Regions from separate parts of the Homo sapiens genome. Here regions 2, 3, 4 and 5 are each reported to be linked to region 1. The links are microRNA targets in miRTarBase. Many come from high-throughput screens and were not tested one by one. Region 1 holds a microRNA gene; each other region holds the end of a gene's coding sequence.

Evidence for each region. Region 1 holds the annotated microRNA hsa-miR-346 (UGUCUGCCCGCAUGCCUGCCUCU, at 2,791-2,813, shown strand). A microRNA usually pairs through its seed, bases 2 to 8, with sites in the 3' UTR of a target mRNA and lowers its output. Matches are read on the target gene's strand: a 7mer-m8 pairs with bases 2 to 8, a 7mer-A1 pairs with bases 2 to 7 and ends in A, and an 8mer does both.
Region 2: miRTarBase lists SETD4 as a target of hsa-miR-346. Seed matches in the 3' UTR shown: 7mer-m8 at 2,840-2,846.
Region 3: miRTarBase lists IL18 as a target of hsa-miR-346. The part of its 3' UTR that is shown has no 7-base or 8-base seed match.
Region 4: miRTarBase lists SSH3 as a target of hsa-miR-346. The part of its 3' UTR that is shown has no 7-base or 8-base seed match.
Region 5: miRTarBase lists BTK as a target of hsa-miR-346. The part of its 3' UTR that is shown has no 7-base or 8-base seed match.

What each region holds. Positions count from the first base shown.
Region 1 is chr10:86,263,560-86,267,559 of GRCh38, reverse strand. It overlaps MIR346 (microRNA 346), which reads left to right and starts at 2,772; the gene lies at 2,772-2,866. The region is part of intron 2 of GRID1 (glutamate ionotropic receptor delta type subunit 1); the gene reads left to right. RefSeq lists enhancers at 2,753-3,253, 3,631-4,000.
Region 2 is chr21:36,031,505-36,037,667 of GRCh38, reverse strand. SETD4 (SET domain containing 4) reads left to right here. Exons shown (of 12, transcript NM_017438.5): 11 at 1,417-1,583; 12 at 1,708-3,127. The coding sequence ends at 1,551. Among named protein-coding and RNA genes, the nearest start is that of SETD4, 26 kb to the left of the region's middle.
Region 3 is chr11:112,138,157-112,144,319 of GRCh38, reverse strand. IL18 (interleukin 18) reads left to right here. Exons shown (of 6, transcript NM_001562.4): 6 at 503-1,060. The coding sequence ends at 724. Among named protein-coding and RNA genes, the nearest start is that of IL18, 23 kb to the left of the region's middle. RefSeq lists an enhancer at 823-992.
Region 4 is chr11:67,310,335-67,316,497 of GRCh38, reverse strand. SSH3 (slingshot protein phosphatase 3) reads right to left here. Exons shown (of 14, transcript NM_017857.4): 13 at 6,159-6,163; 14 at 3,906-4,907. The coding sequence ends at 4,611. Among named protein-coding and RNA genes, the nearest start is that of SSH3, 9.9 kb to the right of the region's middle.
Region 5 is chrX:101,346,680-101,352,523 of GRCh38, reverse strand. It overlaps BTK (Bruton tyrosine kinase), which reads left to right. Exons shown (of 19, transcript NM_000061.3): 19 at 2,568-3,074. The coding sequence ends at 2,639. It overlaps TIMM8A (translocase of inner mitochondrial membrane 8A), which reads left to right and starts at 3,782. Exons shown (of 2, transcript NM_004085.4): 1 at 3,782-3,991. The coding sequence starts at 3,860. RefSeq lists an enhancer at 3,811-3,860.

The DNA.
Region 1 (4,000 bases):
TAGGCTGCATTCACAGGTCTAGACCCTGCTGTTCACCCTGGGGGGATGAATCAGCTTCATTCTTCCTGAACAAAAGCTCCTGGGTTGCCAGGGAGATGTAGGGGCTGCCGCCTGTACTTCCTGGAGCTGCAGTTTGGTGTCAGGAAGAGATGGGCACTCAGCAGCCCCAGGGCGGGGCTGGGTTGAGCTGCCATCACCGCTGTTGTCCTTGTTGAATGGGACCGTATGTGGATCAGAGACAGCAGAGCCTCTGAGTTTGCACAGATTTGGGTTTGAATGTGGCTCTGCCCATTGATGGCTACATGACTTTCAGCTGCAAGCTGCCCTTTTGAAGCCTGTTTCCTCAAATTGAAGTTGGGATGATAATATCCAGCTTGCAGGGGCTGAGATATTTCATGAGGTAACAGTTGGAAGGCATTCCATCTATTCATTTATTTAATACATGTTTGTGGCTGTCTGCTGTGTGCCAAGCACTTTCCCGGGGTGGGAATCCATGCCGTGACGTGATGCTGACGTGGCCCTGTGCTGAGTGGTCAGCCTGGCTGGCACCATGCTAGGCACACAGAGAGCCTCACTAAATGGTATTTACTCTTGTTCTTGGGGACAGAGGCTCTGTGGGGATAGGGGAAGAGTCCTCCTTGGCTTGGTGTTTGCCTGGTCTTGGGCATTTTGGGGAAGTGGAGGGGTAGGGGGAGTCCCACTACCCAATCCTATAGCCCGGCAGGAAGTAGTAGGCCTCATGAGAAAACTCTGGGGACTTAAGCTCCATGCTGCCTGTGAATCCCAGGGTTCAGGGGACCAAGAGGGTTTCCTAAGCCTGTGAAAGCTGCTGCAATTGGTGTAGAGGCCACCATGGAGCCACAGTCCAGGGGCCCAGTGGGCCTTTTCTTATCTCTCTTGCCAGGCCACAGAGTAGGTTCTGGAGAATTGGGCCTGGCGGCTCTGAGCTGGGCTGACACTCATCACTGACCTGGGATCATGGGAGTTGGGCAGGAGGGCCCTCCCCTGGGAAAGAATCCTCTCATCTGACTGTGGTGTGTAAAAGATCAGGAAGCCTCGAACCAGATTAGGGCAGGGCTGGGGACAGGTGCAGAGCCTGGGGGCTCCTCAGCTGTGTAGAAGTGCTGGGAAGGCATGGTGTATTTGGGGGTCAGATGTGGTAGTTTTGGGGTTATTGATGGAATTTGGGGGTAGGCAGGGATGCCGTGTGTGAATGCTCTGGGAGGAGGTTTGCAGGAATTAGAGGGATTTGCTGGAGGAGCTTTCTGATGGCGTCACTGGTGCTGTGCATTGGGGGTTGGTGGCAGGTCCTGGAGTCATAGCTGGGGTCATAGGTGTGTTAGGGAGGCAGTGATGATGGGTTATCAGGAGGGGGAGGATCACTGATGAGGTGGGAGGTGGGAGCAGCGAGGATGGAATGGTGCTGTTGGCCAGGGGGTCCTCAGTGACTACCCCAGCAGGGTGGCTTCAACTGTGAGCTCTGGTGTGTCTGTTTCTTGTCTCAGCGCTCCACGGGGAAGTTTAGACCTGAGCCTCTGAGAGGGGTCACTGGGCAGAGAGACCCCTGGATCTCAGAGGGCTGAAGGGGGAGGTGAATGGTGGGCATGGGTGGCAAGGGGCTGAGCCAGGGCAGTGGATGAGTCAGGAGTATGGGAGGCTGGGCTGCTGATCAGCGACTTTGCAGATCCTCAGGGTCATTACTTGCTGTTGTTGCTGGGGAAAGTTGCAAAATGAAAATTAACTGTCAGAGAAGATTGATTCGTTTGATGCCTAACCAGGAGCAGCCTTTTATTGCTGTAAAATGTTGATTTCCTCTTGCCTGCAATGACAGGTGAGTGTTAGTGGCACTGAAGGAAGACAGATCCCTGAACAGAACTTGCAGAAACCATCCCCTGAGGGGCTCAGCCCTCTTCCCTCCAACCTCTATGGCTGCAAGAGCAAGAATGAGTGTCTGATTTTACTCATGGGGTGAGAACACATCTGTGGGTGTGCCAGCCACGTGGCAGGGCTGGTGGTAAGACCTGGGGCTCTGGATTCAGACACATCTGGATTCAAATCCACGCTGGGCCACTTAATAGCTCTATGCCTGTGGGCAAGCCTCAGTGTCCTCATCTGTAAAATAGAAGGGTCATACCTAATTAAGTCCTAGATTTTAAAGCACTTGGCACAGTGCCTGGCACAGGTTATCAGGGCTGGGTCCAGTTGAAATGATCAAATGCTGCTGAAATTCAGAACTCGGATCACTTTTGCAATAGCAGCCATCGGTCGGGGGCAAGGATGGGACAAAGGCAGGACAAGAGTCAAGAGAGGGAGCCGTCAGAGAAGTGGAGTGGGAGGTGAACGAGGATAATTTGTTATAATGGAACCATGCCTGAGGTGGGGGTATGGGAGCTCATGCCTATGGGGGGCCGGGCAGGGTGGGCCACTCAGTCTGCAGGCCTGGGCCAGGCTAGCTGCTCAGAAAGGATGAGTAGCCCAGGTCTGTCCCTGCCCAGTGTGTGGCCAGGGGAGCCTCTCCGTGCCCATGCCACTTGTCTTGCTTAAGTGTGGCTAGGAAGGAAAAGGCTGGGCAAGTGCAGCTCCTGCTTGGCTGATCCAGGCCTTGATGGCAGATAGCTATGTTCAGAGAGTTTCCTGGGGGCCGGGGAGTAGCCCTTCTCCTCTAGGAGCCTCTTGTCAGCAAGGAGTGAATTTGGCTGCAGGTTGGAGGGCTTCCTCGTCTGCAGGGCCAACCAGGAAGGGGCGGCGGTGACACAGACGAGCGTGTGGGAGGTCTCTGTGTTGGGCGTCTGTCTGCCCGCATGCCTGCCTCTCTGTTGCTCTGAAGGAGGCAGGGGCTGGGCCTGCAGCTGCCTGGGCAGAGCGGCTCCTGCATGGGACATGGCTCTTCTCTCTGGTTACAGACTCACCACTTCGCTCCCAACCTACCTCCACAGTCAGCGTGGGGCATCAGGCCAGGCCCTCCTGAGCCAGAGAAGATTGTGGAAACCTTGCTCTCCAGGTGGAGTGGCCAGCCTCTGGGAGGTGTTCAGGAATGGGCTCCTAGAGAGTGTGGTGAGCTCAGGCTGGATCTGAGCTGGGCAAAACTGCTTCCAAGGGGGGCCCACATCCAAGGGACTGAGTGGTGGTGGGATTCCTCCCTCTGGGGTAGTCTCCAGCCTATGGGGCAGGGGTACAGGGTACAAGGGGCAGACAGATGTAGGGAGGACAGGCAGGAAGTTCCAGCAAGTTTCCGGGCCAAGGAAATGTTGTAGAGAACCAGAGGATGATAGGAAAGAACAAATGAAGGACAAATGAAAAGGCCTGGCCAGGCTCCAGAGTGGGGCGTGTTGAAGTCTGAGGGTCATGGGTCTCACCTGTTGGTGGGGCTGGGCTCTTAGCTCCAGCGTGGGGTGGTACTGCAGCTGCTGGGATGGGAGAGGAGGGTGCCCAGCAGTACCTTCTGTGGGTCAGCGTGACTGGCAATGAAAATGAGGTGAATGAACATCCCAGGAGCTCATGCTGCCAATAAAACACCTGACCCGGCAGGTGGGCAGCCTGGATTCGGCTCCCAGCTCTGCTGTGAACTTGCAGAGGCTCCTGGACAAGTCCCTTCCCCTCTCTGGCTTTCTGTTTGCTCCTCTGCAAAATGTGAGCCAAATATTTTCAAGCAGTGGCACTCTTTGTTCAAATGAAATATTCCATGAAACCCACTTTTCTTAACTTAGTGAAGTGGGTTGAGGTGGGGAAACCCAGTGGTCTAGCCCATCTCCAAAGCCTACTTCCAAACATAAACAATTGTCCTAGATTTTAAAAATTAATATTTTAAAACCAACTCTTATTGAGCACTTGATATGTACCAGGCACTGTTCTAAGCACTTTATAAATAGTGACTCAATTCTCACAACCCGAGGGGGAGGGAGGTGGGGAAACAGGCATCAGAGGTGAGGTGACATCTCAAGGTCCCACAACTAGTGAGTGGCACAGCAGGATTCCAGCCCAGGCAGTGGGGTCTAGGACG
Region 2 (6,163 bases), not on the chromosome of region 1:
GCTTTTTCTCTCAATTTTTTATTTTTATTTTTTCTTTTTCTTTTCTATTTTTTTTTTTTTTTTGAGACAGAGTCTTGCTCTGTCTCCCAGGCTGGAGTGCAATGGCACGATCTCGGCTTACTGCAACCTCCGCCTCCTGGGTTCAAGTGATTCTCCTGCCTCAGCCTCCCGAGTAGCTGGGATTACAAGTGCCCGCCACCACATCTGGCTAATTTTTGTATTTTTAGTAGAGACAGGGTTTCACCATGTTGGGCAGGCTAGTCTCAAACTCCTGACCTCAGGTGATCCGCCCACCTCAGCCTCCCAAAGTGCTGGGATTACAGGCATGAGCCACTGCACCTGGCCTCTTTATTTTTAATTGGTCAGTAAAAATTGTATATATTTATAGTGGACTACATGATGTTTTAAAATAGGTATACATCGTGGATGGCTAAATCAAGCTATTTAACATATGCATGATCACATATACTTATTTTTTTTGTGGTGAGAACACTTAAAATCTGCACTTAGCAATTTTCAAGTACATAATATATTGTTATTAACTGTAGTCACCACGATGTACCATAGATCTCTTGAACTTAATCCTCTGGTCCAGCTGAAATTTGGTGTCTTTTGATCAACATCTCCCTAATCCCTCTCCAACCCCTCAGCCTCTGGTGACCACAATTTGACTCCCTGCTTCTATGAGTTTGATGATTTTAGAGTCCATGTATAGTGAGATCATGCAATATTGGTCATTCTGTGCTGGCTTATTGCCGTGTGACAGCATGTCCTCCAGGTTCATCCACGTTGTCACAAATGACAAAATTTCCTTTTTTATAAGGCTGAATGTACTTCACTGGGTATATATGCCACTTTTTCTTTATTCATCTGTTGATGAATACTTAGGTTGATTCCATATCTTTGCCTTTACTTTTTATTAAAAGGCAAAAAGTAAAAGTTACTGTGTGACTTCAAGCATTCTTTCTCATTGATGTGTTTATTTAGTAAATGTTTTAGTTAAATGAGAAATCAGCTTATTCGTATGAAAACATGCCTGGGATTTAAAGAGTGATTTTAATGAAGCTTGAAGACATTATTGGAAATGAAATAAGCCAGACACAAAAGGACAAATGCTGTATGATCCACTTCTGTGAGGTTCCTGGAACAGGTGAGTTCGTAGAGACAGAGAGTGGAGTAGAGGTGACGGGGGGTTTGGGGAAGAGGGGAATAGGGTTATTGATGTATGCTTGTAGAGTTTCTGTTTGGGTGATAGAAAAAGTTCTGGAGCTGGAGAGTGGCAGTGGATCTAAACAATGTGAATGTACTTCATGCTGCTGAACCATACACTTAAAATTGGTTAAAAAGGTACGTACGTTCTGTGAAATATATATATATGTTTTACTACAATAACAATAATTAAAAAATAACTTTCAGGTGTCTCATATGAAGGATGAAAAAGAGGCCCTGATAAACCAACTAACTTTGGTGGAATCCTTGTGGACGGAAGAGCTAAAGATTCTCAGGGCATCTGCCGAGACCCTGCACAGTTTGCAAACAGCTTTTACCTGATTTCACCGAAGCGCATTTGGTCACCTCCTCTGGTGGGTGTTAGTCACACATTTTAGACTAAGGTTTGATGGACTAAATTTATATAGTTTAGAGTCGATGAGTTGTGTCTACTCAACAATTAGGAACTTAATCCTTTTCCTTTTGCTTTTCCTACAGAAACAAAAGTTAATTTTGAAGAGCATCATCATGGGCTGGGGTGGTGGCTGCCCCCAGGACATGCAGGATTTCTGCAGGGGGCAGCACAGGTTCTGGGATTGTGAGGCTGTGAGTGAAGGTGGACAAGCTGTCTGGATGGCAGGTCTAATGCTCTTCCGAATAAAGTGCTGAACTGTGAGGAGAGAGGCGGACTGTGAGGCAGCCAGGAGCCAGCTGCGTCCGTGTGTGGTCTGTCACCACGGGGCCTGCTTCTTATCTGACACAGCAGCTATCAGAGTCTAGTGGTTGTGCTTTTAAGATGCTCTGATACCATTGGGTTAAGGGGCAGATTGGCGGTGGGTGTGGGGCAGTGTGAGGTAGTCCTGGATCCCCGCCAGGGTGGCCCAGACGCCAGCCCTTCCCTGTGTGGCTGCACTGAGGTGGGTGTTGAAGAGCCCCCTAGGGGACACACAGCTTCCAGGAGGAGGGAATGTCCTCTAAGCATGCTCCTGGCCTCTCAAGGTGGCGCTTGTCTAATTATTCACTTGGGAAGAATGACTAGCTCAGCCAGCGGCTCTTTCTGCTTTGTTCTGGCGACTTTCCTGGGCAGGCCTTTCCACCTGGGGAGCTGGCTCATCCTGCACAGCTGGGCCGTGGTGGGCCTGTCTGCTTGATTCTGGGGTTCAGTGTAGGTCAGCTGATGGCGAACCATGGTGGTGGTTTGGCTTCTGTTCTTATTCTTGAGTTTTGATACCACGCAGACCTTGGGTGGGGAGAGCTTCCTGCACAGCTCTCAGCGGCCTGTGGCCTTGGAACTGCCTGCGTAAGTAACGGAGGGGCTGCTGGTCCTGTTCAGGCCCGTGCTGGGGACGCCGCTTAGACAATGTTGCCCAGAGTCCTGTTTACCCTCCCAGGGTTCATTCTTCCCAAGAACTCAAATTCCTTTCTCATTGGAGCCTAGTGAAACCAAATGAACGGGACCTGCTGGCCTCAGGAGGCAGGCAGAGTTTAAAATAAAACTTTCTCATGATTTCTTGAACATCTTTCCCTGTTTGTATATACACTTTGTGTTTATTTTTCAGTAGCTGCAGTATATTTTTTTTCAATATTCAGTATAATGCAGTGTATTTCATCATATGCTGTATGGAGAGTGGGCAGACTTCTGTGGAGGGCCCGATAGTAACCATTTGAAGCTTTCTGGACCTGTGGTCTTAGTCCCAGCGATTCTGCAGAGCGGCCATCGGCAGCATGTCAACCATTTGCATGGCTGGGCTCCAGGGAAACTACTGACAACGACAGGTGGTGGGCCATAGTTTCCTGACCCCTGTGCTATGCCAGAATTTCTTTTTCCTCTTCCCTATGAGTGGACCTAAATATGTTAATTCCTTTTCACCTTTCAAAACGGACAGCCCCTTGAACATTAAAAACTTCGCAGACCCTACATGGTCATTGTGCTTTCCTTGTCCAGTGATTAGAAAAACTGCGCAGTGGGTGGGCGTGGTGCTCACACCTGTGATCACTTCAGGGGAGGCTGAGGTGGAGGATCTCTTGAGCCCAGGAGTTCTGAACAGCTTGGGTGATGTAATGCGTCCCCCCGCCCCACAATCCCGTTCCTACAAAACAATTTAAAAAATGAGCTGGGCAGGGTGGTCCGTGCCTGTAGCTGCAGCCACTCGGAAGGGTGAGGCCAGAGGATGGCTTGAGCCCAGGAGTTTGAGGTTGCAGTGAGCCAGGATCGTGCTACTGTACTGCAGCCTGGGCGACAACTAACTGAGTGAGACCCTGTCTCTAAAAATAATAAAGCAAAATTAAAAAATACACAGTGACAAAAAGCAGCTGCCCAGAAACATGTACAACTAATAGTTCATCAGCACAGCAGATCTGCATTTATTTACAGCTGAGTAATACTCCATCAGCACAGCAGATCTGCATTTATTCGAAGAATAGTATGAGACTGTAGACAATGCTAGTTATGTGAAGTCACGGACCCCTTGCAAGAAACCTGTGGCCCCTTGTTGGGCAGTCTGGCCACAGGGTGAAACCACCGCTCACAGTCCATACGCTTCCTTTCGGCTGCTCTTTTGTTTTGGACTCAAAAGACGCTGGTGGCAGGCTGTTCTCGTCAAGTCATTCTTAGGGCAGCAAACCCATCTGTCCCCATCTAGGGTGAGGCAGCGTGCAGTGCTGTTTAACCGACGGCGCTATTTTCTTCCTTATTGTCTAATCACCACCGCCCTCCCCGGACTCCCCCTAGCCATCTTTCTTTCTTGGTTTTCTCTTTGCTGGTGCTTTGGGTGGGCCTGAGGCTCCTAAAGACTCGCACCCCTGTTGGTGTCTAGTTCTGAGTTTGGGTGGTAAACCTCCAACTGCTGACTTGGCCCGAGGGGACAGACAGCAAGAAGTTAAGGGCGATTGGAGGCATTCCTCGATCATCTTTCCAGCTAAGGATAGAATAGGCCCTCCTCTGTGGAGGGTGTTCCTCAAGGAGGGAGGCCCTCCTCTGTGGAGGCTGGCAGTGATGTTTGAGGAAATAGGTCTGTAATTGTGTGAAAATGACTTTCTCACCGAAACTCCTGGCCGTGCCCCTTGAGGGCCCATGGGGTCCAGCAGAGGCGATTCTGGCTCCTCCTCGGTGGTCAGCTGCTGCCTTCCGTACTATAGGTAAATGCTGGGCGGCAGGTTTTGTCCCGAGGGGGAACGTGTAACAGAACCCATGACTTGTGGGCTGATATTTGAACAGCCTTGTCAGGAATGCCACCTGTGGGATCCCTTGTAAAAGAGCTTTCTCCCACAGTACAGAAAGTCCTGTGGGAACTAAAAGGAACAAAACGGAGGAAGGAAGGCGCAGGGACAGTGCATCTTTCTCCAGCCCGGCCAATGTATCCATGCATCAGCCCCCACAACAGGACAGCGACCCCCACACATCAGTGCCCCACAACAGGACGTGACCCCCACACATCAGCGGCCCCTACAATAGGACAGCAACCCCCACACACATCAGCCCCCACAATAGATCAGCGACCCCCACACACATCAGCGCCCCACAACAGGACAGCGACTCCTCACATCAGCGCCCCACAACAGGACAGCGACCCCCACATATTAGCGCCCCACAACAGGACAGCGACCCCCACACATCAGCGGCCCTCACAACAGGACAGCAACCCCCACACACATCAGCGGCCCCCACAATAGGACAGCGACCCCCACACACATCAGCGGCCCCCACAATAGAACAGCGACCCCCACACACATCAGCGGCCCCCACAATAGAACAGCGACCCCCACACACAGCAGCCCCCACAATAGAACAGCGACCCCCACACACAGCAGCCCCCACAATAGGACAGCGACCCCCACACACAGCAGCCCCCACAGTAGGACAGTGGTCCCCACACATATCAGTGCCCCCCACAGTAGGACAGCAACCCCCCCACACATCAGCAGCCCCCACAATAGGACAGCGACCCCCACAGTAGGACAGTGACCCCCACACACATCAGTGCTCCCCACACACATCAGATTCCCCCCACAGTAGGACAGCGACTCACCACACGTATCAGTGCCCCTCACACAACACACCAGTGTCCTCACACAACACACCAGTGTCCCCCACACAACACGCCATTGCCCCCACAGAACATGCCAGTGTCCCCCGCACAACACACCAGTGTCCCCCACATGACATGCCAGTGTCCCGTGCACACGCCAGTGTCCCCCACACAACACGTCAGTGTCCCCACACAACACGCCATTGCCCCCACAGAACACGCCAGTGTCCCCCACACGACATGCCAGTGTCCCCCACACAACACGCCAGTGTCCCCCACACAACATGCCATTGCCCCCACAGAACATGCCAGTGTCCCCCCGCACGACACGCCAGTGTCCCGTGTACACACCAGTGTCCCCCGCACGACACGCCAGTGTCCCCACACGACACGCCATTGCCCCCACACAACACGCCAGTGTCCCCCACACAACATGCCATTGCCCCCACAGAAAATGCCAGTGTCCCCCCGCACGACACGCCAGTGTCCCGTGTACACACCAGTGTCCCCCACACGACACGCCAGTGTCCCCACACAACACACCATTGCCCCCACAGAACACGCCAGTGTCCCCCACACGACATGCCAGTGTCCCCTGCACAACACGCCAGTGTCCCCCACACAACACATGCCAGTGTCCCCCAGACATGCTAGAGTTCCACTGACAGCACGCCAGCACCTGCCCCCACCAGCAGACATTTCTCTCCCGTGCTCATCCCTCTCACCTTTCAGAGGGTGTTTCTCATCTTCCTGTTGTAACCTTTCACTATTTTCTTGTTTTAATATCCTTTTATTCTATGTAGTTTTAACATTAGGCTATAAGAAAATTAAAAAAAAAAAAAAACACCTGGGCCAGGCACGGTGGCTCACGCCTGTAATCCCAGCACTTTGGGAGGCCGAGGCGGGTAGATCACGAGGTCAGGAGA
Region 3 (6,163 bases), not on the chromosome of region 1:
TCAAGGCTGCAGTGAGCTATGATTTCACCACTGCACTTCTGGCTGGGCAACAGAGCGAGACCCTGTCTCAAAGCAAAAAGAAAAAGAAACTAGAACTAGCCTAAGTTTGTGGGAGGAGGTCATCATCGTCTTTAGCCGTGAATGGTTATTATAGAGGACAGAAATTGACATTAGCCCAAAAAGCTTGTGGTCTTTGCTGGAACTCTACTTAATCTTGAGCAAATGTGGACACCACTCAATGGGAGAGGAGAGAAGTAAGCTGTTTGATGTATAGGGGAAAACTAGAGGCCTGGAACTGAATATGCATCCCATGACAGGGAGAATAGGAGATTCGGAGTTAAGAAGGAGAGGAGGTCAGTACTGCTGTTCAGAGATTTTTTTTATGTAACTCTTGAGAAGCAAAACTACTTTTGTTCTGTTTGGTAATATACTTCAAAACAAACTTCATATATTCAAATTGTTCATGTCCTGAAATAATTAGGTAATGTTTTTTTCTCTATAGGAAATGAATCCTCCTGATAACATCAAGGATACAAAAAGTGACATCATATTCTTTCAGAGAAGTGTCCCAGGACATGATAATAAGATGCAATTTGAATCTTCATCATACGAAGGATACTTTCTAGCTTGTGAAAAAGAGAGAGACCTTTTTAAACTCATTTTGAAAAAAGAGGATGAATTGGGGGATAGATCTATAATGTTCACTGTTCAAAACGAAGACTAGCTATTAAAATTTCATGCCGGGCGCAGTGGCTCACGCCTGTAATCCCAGCCCTTTGGGAGGCTGAGGCGGGCAGATCACCAGAGGTCAGGTGTTCAAGACCAGCCTGACCAACATGGTGAAACCTCATCTCTACTAAAAATACAAAAAATTAGCTGAGTGTAGTGACGCATGCCCTCAATCCCAGCTACTCAAGAGGCTGAGGCAGGAGAATCACTTGCACTCCGGAGGTAGAGGTTGTGGTGAGCCGAGATTGCACCATTGCGCTCTAGCCTGGGCAACAACAGCAAAACTCCATCTCAAAAAATAAAATAAATAAATAAACAAATAAAAAATTCATAATGTGAACTGTCTGAATTTTTATGTTTAGAAAGATTATGAGATTATTAGTCTATAATTGTAATGGTGAAATAAAATAAATACTAGTCTTGAAAAACATCATTAAGAAATGAATGAACTTTCACAAAAGCAAACAAACAGACTTTCCCTTATTTAAGTGAATAAAATAAAATAAAATAAAATAATGTTTAAAAAATTCATAGTTTGAAAACATTCTACATTGTTAATTGGCATATTAATTATACTTAATATAATTATTTTTAAATCTTTTGGGTTATTAGTCCTAATGACAAAAGATATTGATATTTGAACTTTCTAATTTTTAAGAATATCGTTAAACCATCAATATTTTTATAAGGAGGCCACTTCACTTGACAAATTTCTGAATTTCCTCCAAAGTCAGTATATTTTTAAAATTCAGTTTGATCCTGAATCCAGCAATATATAAAAGGGATTATATACTCTGGCCAACTGACATTCATCCTAGGAATGCAAAGATGGTTTAATATCCTAAAATCAATTAACATAACATACTATATTAATAAAGTATCAAAACAGTATTCTCATCTTTTTTTCTTTTTTCACAATTCCTTGGTTACACTATCATCTCAATAGATGCAGAAAAAGCATTTGACAAAATCCAATTCATAATAAAAATTCTCAAACTTGAAAGAGAACATCATAAAGGCATCTATGAAAAACCTACAGCTAATATCATACTTAACGATGAAAAACTGAATTATTTTACCCTAAGATCAAGAATAATGCAAGCATGTCAGCTCTTGCAACTTCTATTCAACATTGTACTGGAGGTTCTAGCCAGAGCAACCATACAATAAATAAAAATAAAAGGCACCCAGATTAGAAAGGAAGTCTTTATTTGCAGACAACATGGTTCTTTATGCAGAAAACCGTCAGGAATACACACACATGTTAGAACTAATAAGTTCAGCAAGGTTGCAGGTTGCAATATCAATATGCAAAAATACATTGAAGGCTGGGCTCAGTGGAGATGGCATGTACCTTTCGTCCCAGCTACTTGGGAGGCTGAGGTAGGAGGATCACTTGAGGTGAGGAGTTTGAGGCTATAGTGCAATGTGATCTTGCCTGTGAATAGCCACTGCACTCGAGCCTAGGCAACAAAGTGAGACCCCGTCTCCAAAAAAAAAATGGTATATTGGTATTTCTGTATATGAACAATGAATGATCTGAAAACAAGAAAATTCCATTCACGATGGTATTAAAAAAATAAAATACAAATAAATTTAGCAAAATAATTATAAAACTTGTACATCGAAAATTTCAAAGCATTCTGAGGGAAATTAAAGATGATCTAAATAATTGGAGAGACATTCTATGATCACTGATTGGAAAACTCATTCAATATTGTTAAGATAACAATTGTCCCCAAATTGATGCATGCATTCAATTTAGTCTTCATCAAAATTCCAGCAGGGTTTTTGCAGAAATTGACAAGCTGTACCCAAAATGTATATGGAAATGAAAAGACCCAGAAGAGCAAATAATTTTTTAAAAACAAAGTTGGAAAACTTTTACTTCCTAATTTTAAAACTTACTATAAACCTAAAGTTATCAAGACCATTTAGTACTAATACAAGATATATAGATCAAAGGAACAGATTTCAGAGTCCAGAAATAAACTCTAATATTTATGGTTAATTGATTTTTGACAAAGGTGCCAAGTCAGTTTGATAGAGAAAATAAGGCCAGGCACAGTGGCTCATGCCTGTAATCCCAGCACTTTGGGAGGCTGAGGTGGGTGGATCACTTGAGGTCAGGAGTTCAAGACCAGCCAGGCCAACATGGTGAAACCCTGTCTCTACTAAAAATACAAACATTAGCCAGGTGTAGTGGCATGTGCCTATAATCCCAGCTACTCAGGAGGCTGGGGCAGGAGAATCTCTTAAACCTGGGAGGTGGAGTTTGCAGTGAGCCAAGAGTGTGCCACTGCTCTCCAGCCTGGGCAACAGAGCAAAACTCTGTGTCATAGATAGAGAAAATAGTATCTTTTCAACAAATGATAATGGGACAATTGGATATCCACATGCAAAAAAAAGATTAACTTAGACCCTTACCTTATACCTTATACAAAACTTCATTCAAAATGAACCAGAGACATTAATGTAAGAGTGGAAGCTATAAAACTTTTAGAATAAAGCATACAAGAAAATGGTAAAATCTTGGGTTCAGCAAAGGTTTTTTAGACGTGACCCGAGAAGCATGATCCATAAAAGAAAAATAATTAACAAATTTGACTTAACCAAAATGCATTATTTTGGGGTTGAGGGGGAACTGGGTGAAGGATACATGGGACATCTCTCTACCACTCTTGCAACTTCCTGTGAACCCTTAATTATTTCCAAATAAAAAGCTATTCTTTTCTTTCTTTAGAGAGAGTGCCTCACTCTGTCACACAAGCTGGAGTGCAGTGGTGTGATTATAGCTCACTGCAGCTATAATTCAAGTGATCCTCCTGCCTCAGCCTCCCAAGTAGCTGGGACTAAAGGCACATGCCACCATACCTGGCTAATTTTTTTTTAATTGTAGAGAAGGGAGTCTTGCTATGTTGCACAGAGTGGAAAATAAAAAGTATTTTAAGAAAGAAATAACTTTTGCCCTCAAAAGACACCATTAAGGTAATGAAAAGCGGCCAGGCAAGGTGGCTCATGCCTGTAATCCCAGCACTTTGGGAGGCCAAGGAGGGCGGATCATTTGAGCTCAGGAGTTGGAGATGAGTCTGGCCAACATGACAAAACCCTGTCTCTACCAAAAATACAAAAACTAGCCAGGCATGGTGGTGGGCGCCTGTAATCCCAGCTACTCAGGAGGCTGAGGCGGGAGAATCACTCGAACCTGGGAGGTAGAAGTTGCAGTGAGCCAAGATTGTGCCAGTGCACTCCAGCCTGGGCAACAGAGTGAGACTCTGTCAAAAAAAAAAAAAAAAAAAGAAGGAAAGAAAAGAAAGAAAGAAAAAGAGAAAGAGAGAGAGGGAGGAAGGAAGGAGAGAGAGAAAGAAAGAAGAGAGAAAGAAAGAAAGAGAAAGAAGGAAGGAAGGAAGAGAAAAGCCACAGACAGGGAGAAAGTATTTGGAAATCACATACATTGCAAAAAAACTTGTACCCAGAATATACAAAGAACTCTTAAAAACAAACCAAATAAAAAAAGACTCAATTTTAAAATGCGCAAAAGATTTCAATAGACATTTTTCAAAGAAGATATACAAATGGCAAATGAAAAGATGCTTCACATCGTCAGTCATTAAGGAAATGCAAATTTAAAACATAATGAGATACCATTTCACATCCACCAGGAAGGCTATAATCAAAAAGACAAACAGTAGCAAGTGCTAGCAAGGAAGTAGTGAAACAAGAATTCTCGTTCCTTACCTGCGGGAATGTGAGTTAGCATATAGCCATTTTGGAAAACCATTTTTTATTTTTTATTTATTTATTTATTTTTGAGACAGAGTTTCGCCCTCTCGCCTAGGCTGTAGTGAACTGGCTTGATATCAGCTCACTGCAACCTCCACCCCCCAGGTTCAAGCGATTCTCCTGCCTCAGCCTCCTGAGCAGCTGGAATTATAGGCAGCCACCAGCACGCTCAGCTAATTTTTTTTGTATTTTTAGTAGAGATGGGGTTTCGCCATGTTGGCCAGGCTGATCTCAAACTCCTGACCTCAGGTGATCCACCCGCCTAGGCCTCCCAAAGTGCTACTATTACAAGTGTGAGCCACCGGGTCTGGCCGGAAAACCATTTTTCAGTTGCTCAAAAGGTTAAGTATAATTTTTTTATACAACTCAGCAATTCCATTCCTACGTATCTACTCAAGAGAAATAAAACATATGTGCACACAAACACTTGTACATTAATGTTATAGCAGCATTATTCATAATAGCCAAAAAGTGGAAACAGGCTAAATGTCTAAAAACTGGTGAAGGGATAAACAAAATGTAGGAGATCCTTAATGGAAGACAAATCCTAACAGAAAGCAGTAAAATACTTATATGAGCTATATCACGAATGATATAGCATAACTTCAAAACATTATGCTAAGTGAAAAAAGCCACGCGTGAAAGGTTATATATTATATGATTCTACATATATGAAATGTCCAGAAAAGGCAAATCTATGGAGACAGGAAAATAGATTCATGTTTGCCTAGGGTTAACGGATATGAAGAAGCTTCATAAAAAGATATGATCTTATTGGAATGATGAAAAAAACATTTTCAACCTAGATATGGTGGGCTGGGCATGGTGGCTCACGTCTGTAATCCCAGCACTTTGGGAGGCTGAGGCAGGAGGATCGCTTGAGTCCAGGGGTTCGAGACCACCCTGGATAATATAGCAAAACCCTGTCTCTACAAAAAAGTAAAAAATTAGCTGAGCATGGTGGTGCACACCTTGTAGTCCCAGCTACTCAGGAGGCTGAAGTGGGATCACTTGAGCCCAGGATGTCAAGGCTGCAGTGAGCCAAGATAGTACCACTGTACTCCAACCTGGGCAACAGAGTAAGACCCTGTCAAAAAAAAAAAAAAAAAAACACCCACTACATATGGTGATGGTTGTACAACTTGGTGAATTTACTAAAAATTATTGTCTACATAAGATGGGTGAATTTGTGGTATACAAATTATACTTCAATAAAAGTATGTTTTAAAAGAGACAAAAAAGCCAATTAAATATTTATATTAGCTTTTATTGTTTTTTCTTTCCATAAAAATAAAACATATCTGTTAAGAAATTTTAGGAAATACAAAGAAACAGAAAGAAGAAAATGTAAACCATCCACCCTTCCATCTTCAGATAAGCATTTTTGACATTTTGGCATATAACTTTATAATTTTTCTTTCCATAGGAATGTAGGTTGAAAAATAAAAACACTCTCTATCCCTTCCCCCAGACAGAATCTAGTATACCTTTACAACCATCCCTGCAAAGCTTCAGTTGAAATATGAACAGGCAAATGGAGGCAATTTTGGACGGGCAAAGGGGAAAGCTGAGCTCAGACTGGGTGTCAAGGACGGAAAGAGCTGAACGGTTCTGCCTAAGCAAGAAGGGGGTGCTCTGAGAGGGAGGCCAC
Region 4 (6,163 bases), not on the chromosome of region 1:
CTATTTGGGGGGAAAACTCAAATGGCGTTTTTCCTCTGCTCTCACACCATCACAATTATCAACACGTAAGACTTTGGTGACCAAAGATATTGGGTTGGCCAGGCGCAATGGCTCACGCCTGTAATCCTAGCGTTTTGGGAGGCCGAAACGGGTGGATCACCTGAGGTCAGGAGTTCGAGACCAGCCTCGCCAGCATGGTGAAACCCCCATCTCTACTAAAAATACCAAAAAAAATTAGCCAGGCATGGTGGTGGGCACCTGTAATCCTAGCTACTCGGGAGGCTGCGGCAGGAGAATCGCTTCAACCTGGAAGGTGGTGGTTGCAGTGAGCCAAGATTGCGCCATTGCACTCTAGCCTGGGTGGACAAGAGTGAGAATCCATCTCAAAAAAAAAAAAAAAAGGTGTGGGGTTTTTCTCCCCACACACCAAGCAACAGACCAGCTGGGTGGCCTCCAATTCAATTCCAACTCTGTCTACCGGGAGATAGTGTCGGATCGCACAGGTTGAGGCTCAGCCCCCAAGACTGCATCTCCCTCCCCTCAGATCCCAGTCAAAAGTCCAGGCCTCCAGAACTTCTGCCTGACCAGCTTCAAGTTGGGGTTCCCACGATCCCCTCTTTCGGTTTGATTAATTTGCTGGAGCAGCTCACAGAACTCAAAGAAACACTTACGTTTAGTGGCTTATTATAAAGGATACTACAAAGGATAAAGGTGAAAAGATGTGCACGGGGGAGGGTGCGGAGTGTGCACACCCTCCCTAGGTGCACCACCGGGGAGGAACCTGCACATGGTCAGCTACCCAGAGCTCCAAGAAGCCAGTCCTCTTGGGTTTTTAATGGAAGCTTCATGACATCAGCATTCCTTACACCAGGGTATAGAGTGAGGAGGAGGGTCTCTCTGGGGAGGGTCTTATAACCCACAATCTGAAAGTGAGGGTGAACAGTAGAGCCCTGCCTTGGGGCAAGGGAGAGGAGGGCAGAATGTCAAGAGGTTGTTTCCTGCGGCCTGCTCCTGAGGCCTGACACACTCAACATTAGAACAAAAGACTGAACAAGGGCTATGAGGGTTATGAGCCAGGAGCCTGGATGAAAACCAATGTATATATAACACCACGGTACCGATGTGGAACTCTGATATGAACCAATTTTCAAAGTGTAGAATAGTATGTTAACATGCTATTGTCTGTATTTTTAAAAAATACACATACCAATATATTTGATTACATAAGCATGGGGTACCTGGAGGGCATCAAAGGCAGCTGGTAACAAGTCATTGCCTGAGTAGATGTGAAGGACTAGAGGACAGAGTAGGAGTGAGATTTACTTTTCATTTTATATCCTTCTTATTATTTTTTGCCCCTTTAGCAATTTGGGTGAGCTTTGTGTATACATAGGGTTTTTTTTATTTTTATTTTTTTTTGGAGACGGAGTCTCACTCTGTCACCCAAGCTGGAGTGCAATGGCGCAATCTTGGCTCATTGCGACCTCAGCCTCCCAGGTTCGAGCAATTCTCCTGCCTCAGGCTCCCAAATAGCTGGGATTACAAGTGCACGCCACCACACCCAGCTAATTTTTGTATTTTTAGTAGAGACAGTGTTTTGCCACATTGGCCAGGCTGGTCTCGAACTCCTGACCTCAGGTGATCCAACCACCTTAGCCTCCCAAAGTATTGGAACTACAGGCGTGAGCCACTGCACCCAGCCAATAGGGTTCCTAATTGTTTGTAGTTTTGTTTTGTTTTGTAGAGATGGGGTTTCACCATGTTGCTCAGGCTGGTCTCGAACTCCTGGGCTCAAGCAATCCGCCTGCCTCAGCCTCCCAAAGTGCTGGGATTACAGGCATGAGCCACCACACCCGGCACCCTCTTGTCTGTATTTTTGATGCGGTTTCCCCTCCAGTCTTCATTTCCCTGTTTGCTGACTTCTTACTTCTTAGAATCCTCCTGGATTCTAGTGGATTCTAGTGAGCCCCACAGCTCTGAGTTCCTGATTGGACCTGCCTTCTGAGATGCACAGGCTGCAGGAGGGGCAGGGCCTGGCCTTGGCTTACCCCGACACTCTCACCACCACCCCACCCATCTGCAGCCCTAGGCCAGGAATACTGAAAGGGCAGCCTGGGTAGGACTCCTAGTTGGCCACAGAGTGGGGGGTAGCCCCCAGTGTTTGCTCAGCAGGATGGATCAAGAATCAGAACTAGCTTGCATGTACCCCACATCTTGTGACCCTTAGGCATACCACCCAGATAGGTGCCAAGGATTCCTCTTCTGGAAGGGAGGTAGAGGCTAATCTAGCAATGTCTAGATAGCATGTATTGTTAAAATGTATCAAAGTGTAGCCAGGCGTGGTGGCCCTGTAGTCCCAGCTACTCAGGAGGCTGAGGCAGGATGTCTTGAGCCTGGGAGGCAGAGGTTGCAGTGAGCTGAGATCACCCCACTGTACTCAATAATAAATAAATAATAAATAATATAAAATGCATCAAAGTGAAGAGGGGTACTTGGGGATTTCCAGGTCTAATCCCTTTATTTTACAGAAAGAAACAGAGACTCAAAGCAAAGTAATTCATAAGTGGTGAAGCTGGGGCTAAATCCAAGTCTCCTGCCACTGCGCACTTCAGGGTTAGAGCAGTGCTAGGAGTCCCACCAGGGCCTGGGTGAGAGATTCATTCTTAAAACTGGGCGTGAAGTCTCAGTCACTGAGAATGCTTGGTGCCAGCTCCCATCTCTAAGGACTGCTTTGAGGGAAGGAGTTGAATCCGGCCCCTTCCCCAAACCAGGGTAATGTATCATAGAGCAGAGAGCATACATAATCTTGGGAAGAGGGATAGAAGTGACAAAGATGGGCCAGGCGCAGTGGCTCACGCCTGTAATCCCAACACTTTGAGAGGTCGAGATATGCAGATCGCTTGAGCCCAGGAGTTCGAGACCAGCCTGGGCAACATGGTAAAACCCCGTCTCCACAAAAAATAAAAGATAAAAATTAGCTAGGCATGATGGCACATGTAGGTAGTCCCAACTACTCAGGGGCTGAGGCAGGAGGATCCCTTGAGCCCGGGAGGTTGAGGCTGTAGAAAGCCAAGATCATATCACTGCACTCTATTCTGGGTGACAGAGCAAGACCCTGTCTCAAAAAAAAAAAGGAAGTGACAAAGATACAACCACTTAGCTAGGTGTGCCTGTGGTCCCAGCTACTCAGGAGGCTGAAGTGAGAGGGTCTCTTCAGCCTGGGAATTCAAGGCTGCACTGAGGCATGATCGTGCCGCTGCACTCCAGCCTGGGCAACAGAACCAGACTCTGTCTCAAAAAAAGAAAAAAAAAGATGGAATGACTAACTCTTCTTGGACACTAAAGTTGAGCAGAAGGAACCCCTGGGCAGGAGGGGAAGTGTCACCAAGGGTCCTTCTTCCCAGGCCGCAATAGCCTGGCTTGGAAAGTCAGGCCCTTTGCTTTGTAGCAGGAGGAAGGTGATTCTTGGGACCCAAAACATGCCAGAGAACCTGGCGCCGAGTGTCCCAAGGAGGCTTCGCTTTTGGAACAGGCTTGGTCCTGTCCAGGTAGGCACTTCCTCATGAGTAACCCCTTCCAGCTCTCACAGTGGAGCCACATGCCTGCTGCCCGCTGACGACTTCTTCCCTTGCCCGACCTGTCTGAGCGGGTGGGTGTGAGCAGGTCATATTTACCAGGCCCTGCCCCAGGAGATGGGGAGATAGCACTGACTTCCTCTCTTCTCTTACCCAATCTTCCTCCCACGCCACGCCCAAACACGGCACTCCCCCAAATAGGTCTGTCACGAGCCACCTTGGAATTGTGAGGAGACTGCTGGGAGGAAGGGGCGGCCACCTTCCCCAGCCAGCAGAGAAGGGTCTGACTGCAACACAGATGGCTTCATCGTCACATTGAAAATAACCAAATATGAAAATGTGTTTTATTTCTCAGTACAAAGCCAGATACTGTAAGGCTATGAAAAACTGACTAGCCAGAGGCCAGAAAGGACAAAAAGAAGACTATCTCTGGCCTGGTGCCCTGTGATCTGGCGTGGTGTCACAGGAGGTCTGGGGACAGCAGCAAAGACCTGGACCGGTGGAGGTGGATGAGGGAAGCGATCTGCCAGCCCTTCCAGCCTCCCGCGGCTGGGGCCTGAGGATCCTGCCTGCCTTTGGGGGCCACTGGTTGCCTGGCCTGGCTGGTTCCAGGAATGAACTGGGAGAGGACAGGAGGTGCAGGGAGGGGGCGGGGGTGGGAGGCGTGACCCTTTTTGCACGGGAAGCTCTGTTTTCATTCCGTGCCACAGGTGAGTGTGCAGGGCTAGAGTTGAGAATGAAACTAGGGTGCTGTTGCCCCCAAAGGTACCTTCAGTCCCTCTACCACATCCCAGTTAGAAAGTCTTGAGCCCTTGGACAGGCAGACATGGGCCTGGGACTTAAGGCTGTAGGAGGTGAGGCTGTAGTGACAGGGGTGGGAGGTGAGGCCGTAGTGACAGGGGTGGGAGGTGAGGCTGTAGTGACGGGTATGGGGCGGAGCTGAGAGGAATGTGTGCGGCAACAGACGTGAGGGTGTTTCTCCAAGGAGTTGTGGATCCTCTTCAGTGTCAGGGGAGCGTGGGCATGTGTGAGGGCTCAGGCCTCGCCCTCCTCTCCACTGTCATGCACGCTGGCCTGTCTCACCACCTTCCGGAACCTGGGCGTAGAGGAAATGCAGGGCTCTCCCTGCCCCTGCCCCTGCCCCTGCTCCTGCTCCTGGAAGGCCTGGGTCCGGTTGGCCACCACGGCACTGCCCTGGAGGGTAACCACTGACTGGCGGGACTTCAGGGCAGGCTGAGGCCCCCTGTCCACCTGCTGGCCTCCCTTGGTCCTTGCAAGCTGTGGGAAGGGCTGCAGAGGCTCTTCATGTGAAGACTCGTGGGAAGAGAAGACCTGGACAGGTGTGAGGATACGGAAGCCATGGGAGGCCTTTCTGGGGCAGGGGTGCCCAAGCACAGAGCCGGGAAGATCTGGGGCAGGGGTGCCAAGCACAGAGCCAGGAGGAGGCGAGGGCCGGAATGTTTGTGGCACGCACGCCAAAAGCCAAGCTGTCCACAGCCACGCTTCCTCGGGAGGGAGGACAACACCCCAGCCCTGCTGCCCCGCTCCTTGAACCCTACCTGCTTGTAGCTTCCTTCTGGCCCCCAGAAGCCCTCCTCAGCTCCCTGGAGACCCAGGCCTCCCTGCCCTCCTCCCCTCCTATGCTTTCTCTGCCTTTGCGTAGGCAGCCGGCAGGTGAAACCCGTGCCGGCACCAGCCCCTGAGCTGGGCTGGGTGGATGCGTGCGTCCGGTGCTGGGTGAGGACCTCTTGCCTTTAGCAACGCCCACACCCGCCCATCAACCCACCACGCCTCCCTATCCTTCCCCACCCACACCTCCTCCAGGAAGCCTCTCCCAAATGTTCCTGCCCTCAGTGGATGCTCCTTCCTCCAAGTCAGCCATTTGGCCTTGAGTCCCAGACAGGGCCTGGCTCCCAGGCTTAGGCTTGTGCCCGCAGCACTGAGCATCAAGGGTGCTGACTTAGGCAGGACTTGGGCGGCGTGAGTGCGCAGACTCCTCCCCACCCCATCCTTTGAGGTGCTGCTCCTCAGACCAGGGAGGGGCTTCAGAGATTAATTTAGCCTCCCCACCATGGGGTTAGAGATCGCCCCCAGGGCCTGCAGGGGCCTGTGGAGCTCATGGCCTGGGGAGGCAGCCCTGCCCCTGAGACAGCTAGTCCTGTGGTCAGGCTGGAACCTGCCCGCGATCGAGGCTGGGGCTGGCTCACCCAGGAGCCTTGGAAACAGGCACTGCTTCCTGCCCTGCCCCCGTGACCCCTCTCCAGCCTGTGCCTACAGTGCCTCCGCCTGCCCTCACTGGATCTCAGCTGCTCTCAGGGGCCCAGGACGTGGCTGGTCCCCATCTTCAGGGGTATTCATGGGACAGGCTGGAGACGCCGGGTGCTAAGAGATACTGGGCTGACTGTGAAGGAGGCTGGGACCAGGCCCCCTGGGTCCTCCCAGGACACCCTGCATGGGCGGGCCAGACTTAGCCCGGGTACGCCCTGCTCAGGTCTACAGTCAAACGCCCATCCTGGTCTTTCCCCATCTCCCTCCTTATGGCCCCCACCCCTGCAAGCTGAGCTCCCCCAGCCCCAGCCTCACCTCTG
Region 5 (5,844 bases), not on the chromosome of region 1:
CAAAGTGCTGGGATTAGAGGCATCAACCACCACGCCAGGCCTTGCACACATTCTCTGACCTTGGCCTGCAACTTGATCATCTGATGGCCAGAGGCTTTCCCAGGCCCACTCCGATTCTCACTAGAGTGTCATTAGTACACTCCAATGCCAGCTCAGCTTTAGGGAGTGAGGTGTTGTGGGGCCATGTCATCTAGCATAAGCAGGCAGCCAGAGGCATTCAGACAAGTGAATGGGCATTACAAAAGAAAAGTCATGAAAGTTTGTTCATTCCTTTGTGTGTCATTGGCCCTTTCTTCTACTTTATTAGCTGCCAACCGTTTCTGGCTGAGGTCCTAAATGAGATTTTTTTTTTTTTTTTTTTGAGACCGAGTCTTTCTCTGTCGCCCAGGCTGGAGTGCAGTGGCGTGATCTCGGCTCACCGCAAGCCCCGCCTCCTGGGTTCACAGCATTCTCCTGCCTCAGCCTCTCGAGTAGCTGGGACTACAGGGGCCCGCCACCACGCCCGGCTAATTTTTTGTATTTTTAGTAGAGACAGGGTTTCACCGTGTTAGCCAAGATGGTCTCGATCTCCTGACCTTGTGATCCACCCGCCTCTGCCTCCCAAAGTGCTGGGATTACAGGCATGAGCCACAGCGCCCGGCTAAATGAGATTTTTTTTAAAACCTACTGCTTGAAAGGGAACTAAAACAGGTAGTGGGTTTTTTGTTTGCTTTGTTTTGTTTTGCTTTTTAATATGGTGCATCGTGGGGTATGTGGGTAGGTGTGGTATTTTGGAAATAAGGAAATCTGTCCTACTACTATTAAACTGCTTTGCTCCTCTTACCTCGAGTTCTTCCCAAGATGCCTTCTCTACTTTTCAGTAGATCCTTGGCAACCTAAATTTCTAGTAGGAAATAAATGCTCAACTCTTCAGAGTGTCCAACAAGTGCATATGTGAATCTGGAGCCTTCTTGGTGAGGTGAAAAGTGGGTATCTGGATCCGAGCATGGCTGGTTTCCCTCGAACAAATGACAGATCACAGAGAAAGTGCAGAAAGGGAGGACTCCTTCTTTCTTCTGTGTGATGCAGGATTAAGGGTGATTGGCTATGCTCCCTCCCAATCAGGACCTTCTTACTCTGCTAATTAAAAATGATTTCAGACAGGTACTTTATCCACAGCCTGTTTAAAGGAGTGGTCAAAATTGGATGCATATCAGAAACCCTAAGGAGCTCTTAAAAATGCAGATTACTGGCTGGGCATGGTGGCTCATGCCTGTAATCCCAGCAGTTTGGGAGGCCAAGGCAAGCGGATCACGTGGTCAGGAGATCTAGACCATTCTGGCCAACATGGTGAAACCCTGTCTCTACTAAAAATACAAAAATTAACCAGGCGTGGTGATGTGTGCCTGTAATCTCAGCTACTCAGGAGGCTGAGGCAGGAGAATGACTTGAACCCAGGAGGTGGAGGTTGCAGTGAGCCGAGATCCTGCCACTGCACTCTGGCCTGAGTGACAGAGCGAGACTGTGTCACAAAAAAAAATTCAGGTAACTGGGACTTTTCTCCAGAAATTCTGATTAGCTATGCCTGAAGTGGAACCCAGAAATCTCTTTTTAAACTTCCCAGGAAATTCTGATACTCAGCTAAGTTTAAGAATCACTGAGTCAAGGAATCAAGAAATTGATGACCATTGGTTCTAACAGATTGAGAGCATTCTGGCATGAATGTTCCCTGAACCACTAAATACCAAATACCTCGGGGGCTTATGGGCCATGGCCATCAAAAAGAACCTTAGTCGTAGGCCGGGCGCGGTGGCTCACGCCTGTAATCCCAGCACTTTGGGAGGCTGAGGCGGGGGAATTACCTTAGGTCAGGAATTCGAGACTAGTCTGACCAACATGGTGAAACCCGGTCTATACTAAAAATACGAAAATTAGCTGGGCGTGATGGCGTGCACCTGTAATCCCAGCTACCTGGGAGGCTGAGGCAGGAAAATCGCTTGAACCTGGGAGGTGGCAGTGAGCTGAGCTCACACCACTGCACTCCAGCCTGGACAACAGGGTGAGACTCTGTCTCAAAAAGAAAAAAAAAAAAAAACCTTAGTCTTTTTGTTACCAGTGGTAAAAAAAAAAAAAAAAAAAAAAAGGTCCCAGGTACTCAGAATCCCTGCTCAGTAATACAGCCTGTGGTTTTGAAATATTAATCACTAAAAATTATCACATGGGATTTCTGTTCTGCCAACCACTTGAACTTGTTTGGTAGCCATTTTTCACTTGAGGATCCAAAATAAGAATGTGTTGTATACAGTTACATAATGAACTTGCCCTCAATTTTGATCAGTGTGATTGTCAGTTTAATTTGCAAATTGTTCTTATCACACTAATAACCTGAGTTACTAAAGATGAAAAGTGCACAAAGACTTTATGGAGAGCTGCTATTTCTTTTTTTTTTTTTTTTCCTTTTGTAATCGACAGGGCATGCTACTGGGCATAGAGCATATATTTAATAAACATTTGCTGCTTACTCATTGCATTTCCCTTGAATTCTGGATTCTAGCCACTCTAACACTTTACTTTTTCTTTGGTTTTAGAAAGCAGATGAGCGTCCCACTTTCAAAATTCTTCTGAGCAATATTCTAGATGTCATGGATGAAGAATCCTGAGCTCGCCAATAAGCTTCTTGGTTCTACTTCTCTTCTCCACAAGCCCCAATTTCACTTTCTCAGAGGAAATCCCAAGCTTAGGAGCCCTGGAGCCTTTGTGCTCCCACTCAATACAAAAAGGCCCCTCTCTACATCTGGGAATGCACCTCTTCTTTGATTCCCTGGGATAGTGGCTTCTGAGCAAAGGCCAAGAAATTATTGTGCCTGAAATTTCCCGAGAGAATTAAGACAGACTGAATTTGCGATGAAAATATTTTTTAGGAGGGAGGATGTAAATAGCCGCACAAAGGGGTCCAACAGCTCTTTGAGTAGGCATTTGGTAGAGCTTGGGGGTGTGTGTGTGGGGGTGGACCGAATTTGGCAAGAATGAAATGGTGTCATAAAGATGGGAGGGGAGGGTGTTTTGATAAAATAAAATTACTAGAAAGCTTGAAAGTCTTTGGTATCTCTATTAATCATGCAGCCTCCCTGAAGCGCCCTATCTCAGTATTCCAGAAAGCTGCTGTGTAGCATTAGTTTGGCATATTCCTACACTGAGAACTCGACAGGATCCTCCAGGTTTAAGCCCTCTTGTTAACTCCTGCCTCTGAATCAAAGATGCATTAAGCAAAAACAGTGCCTGTCACAGCACGCATGCAATGTTATTTGAATGAATCTGAAAGTTGGGCACAAACTGCCATAGCCTCATTTCCCTACGTCGGGAGAGGAAAACTCCATCAAAAAACGAAAGCCAGGGGCCCAGGATAGCCAACTAATCGACCCAGTCAACTAACTGACCCAGTGCACAACTCTGGTAGCTCAGAAAACGCGGGCTAATTTGGAAGTGGACAGGGGCGGAGCTGTGGGGCCAGCACGGAATGGATCACGTGGTCTGAAGTAACTTCCTTTTCTCCTTTCTTTTCTTTTTGGAGTAACATCTCAACGGCACCTCGGCTCTGGGCTGTAAGCCCTGCGATCTCAAGGCGCAAGGCTGGGCGCAACGGCAGGGTTGCGGGGTTACGGGATTGCGGGGTCCGGGGAGTGGAACCCGCCGACTCCGGGAACGAAGCACCGGCGCCAAGGTGTGGGAGGCGGCGGGGTGGAGTTGGACGCCTGCCTCGCGCCGACGCAGTGCACTCACGGGGGCGGTCCCAGAGGCAGCTAGCTGTGGTTCCGGTTCCGTCGCGGAGACACGTGAAGGTCGGTGCGGAGTTCGTCTCTGCAAGCTTGGTCGCCCTGGGATGGATTCCTCCTCCTCTTCCTCCGCGGCGGGTTTGGGTGCAGTGGACCCGCAGTTGCAGCATTTCATCGAGGTAGAGACTCAAAAGCAGCGCTTCCAGCAGCTGGTGCACCAGATGACTGAACTTTGTTGGGTGAGGAGCCTGGGGCTGGGACCTGAACACTGTACCTACTTTCCCTCTGTCCTTGTACCGCGGGACTCGCGACAACGTCGGGGATTCGGGGTGGGGGGCGGGCACCTGGCAGCAACCCTTGATTTTCTCAGGTTCCTGTGGCCTAGCCGGATGGGAGAAGGGTGACTCCGCTTCTCTGGGGACTGTCATTCCGGACCTCGGCTTTGTTGGTGTAGAGGACTGGGTATCAAAGAAGACTTATGCCACTGGACACCCAGCACTTTCAGGCACCCGAGGTTGAAGCTGCCTAGTGCTGGTCACCAAGACTGATCGGAGCCCCCAGTACTGGGATTTTATTTTTGGCAGCCCGAGTCCCAGAGAGTCAGTGAATCAGTGAATCTGCTATTCCTGGACTCCTCGGGATTTACCTTCATTACCCAGTTCTAACCCTCTCCGCTGAAAAATGAGTGGCTCCAGCCCAGTAACTATAAAAGTGGTGTAATCTCTTCCAACGTACATACTTATTTGCTTTCTTGTTGGATTGTTGTGTAATACCAAGCCGTTTTGGGTCTGAAGGTTGAGGAATTGAGCCTGCCCTGTGAGGGGACTTTGGCAAAAGGGTGGAAGGTATTTGCAGCTTGCCAACAACGTGTTCTGCTTGCCAAGGACAGATCTCCCTTAATGTACACAATTCACAGAATTCAGAGGCCAAGGATAATTTTCCTTGGAATTAGAGGGTCTGAGGCTTGTGTACATGGCAGAGAATAATGAACGAAATTTTTGAACCACTTAACTTGAACTATATACAGTCATTGGTTTCCATAGGCCCTTTCCCATAAACTTACAGTATTGCTGGACTATGACACCTACCAGATGCTTACTTAACTCTGGTCTGCCTTGGACCAGAGTGCTTTGATTCTTTTTTAAAAATATCTGTGATTCGTTACTTTGGGGCTAGGAGGGCGTGTGGTTAAGTACTATTGCAAGAATCTGTAAGCTGCCCGGCGCGGTGGCTCATGCCTGTAATCCCAGCACTTTGGGAGGCGGGTGGATCACTTGAGGTCAGGAGTTCGAGACCAGTCTGGGCAACACGGCGAAGCCCTGTCTCTACTAAAAATAGAAAAAATTAGCTGGGCGGGGTGGCACCCGCCTGTAATCCCAGCTACTCAGGAAGCTGAGGCACGAGAATGGCTTGAACCTGGCGGAGGTTACAGTGAGATCATGCCACTGCACTCCAGCCTGGGTGACAGAGCCAGACTCTGTCTCAAAAAAAAAAAAGAAAAGAAAAGAAAGGAAAAAAAACTGTAAGCTATGATGAACCCCTTAGGAAAATGCATTCAATTTTCCATTCATCATGACAGGATTCAAGAATCTCTAGCTTAAGTAGACAAGGTTATAGAATCTCAAGTCATATTTTTTTTCTTCTTTGGTAGGTTTTAGGGTACCTTGCTGAAATGATTTATCCTTTCACCCTTTTATTCTGTAGTTAACTTAAAGGCATTTAGTTCAAACAGCATTGTGGAGTTAAAACCAAATTCATTGAAAGGTTACTTCACTTATATTTTGCCATTTTCTTGCTCTGGAATATCCCAGCTCTGCCATTTTCTGGCCCTATGATTTTGGGTAAAGTATCTCTGTGCCACAGTTTTCCTCTTTGTAAAATGAGGATTTATAATAGTATCTATTCCATAGTATTGTTGTAAGAATTTAATGTAAGGCTAGAGAACATTGCTATATACTTGGTCAGCTGCCAAATGTGAACTATCAGTAACATATCAGATATTATTTTTAGGTAAAGTTTTTTTTTCTCTAAGCAACAAAAAGGGACCCCTGCCCCCAACCGTCTTTTTCTTTCCAAGTTCCCTTTGTGATTC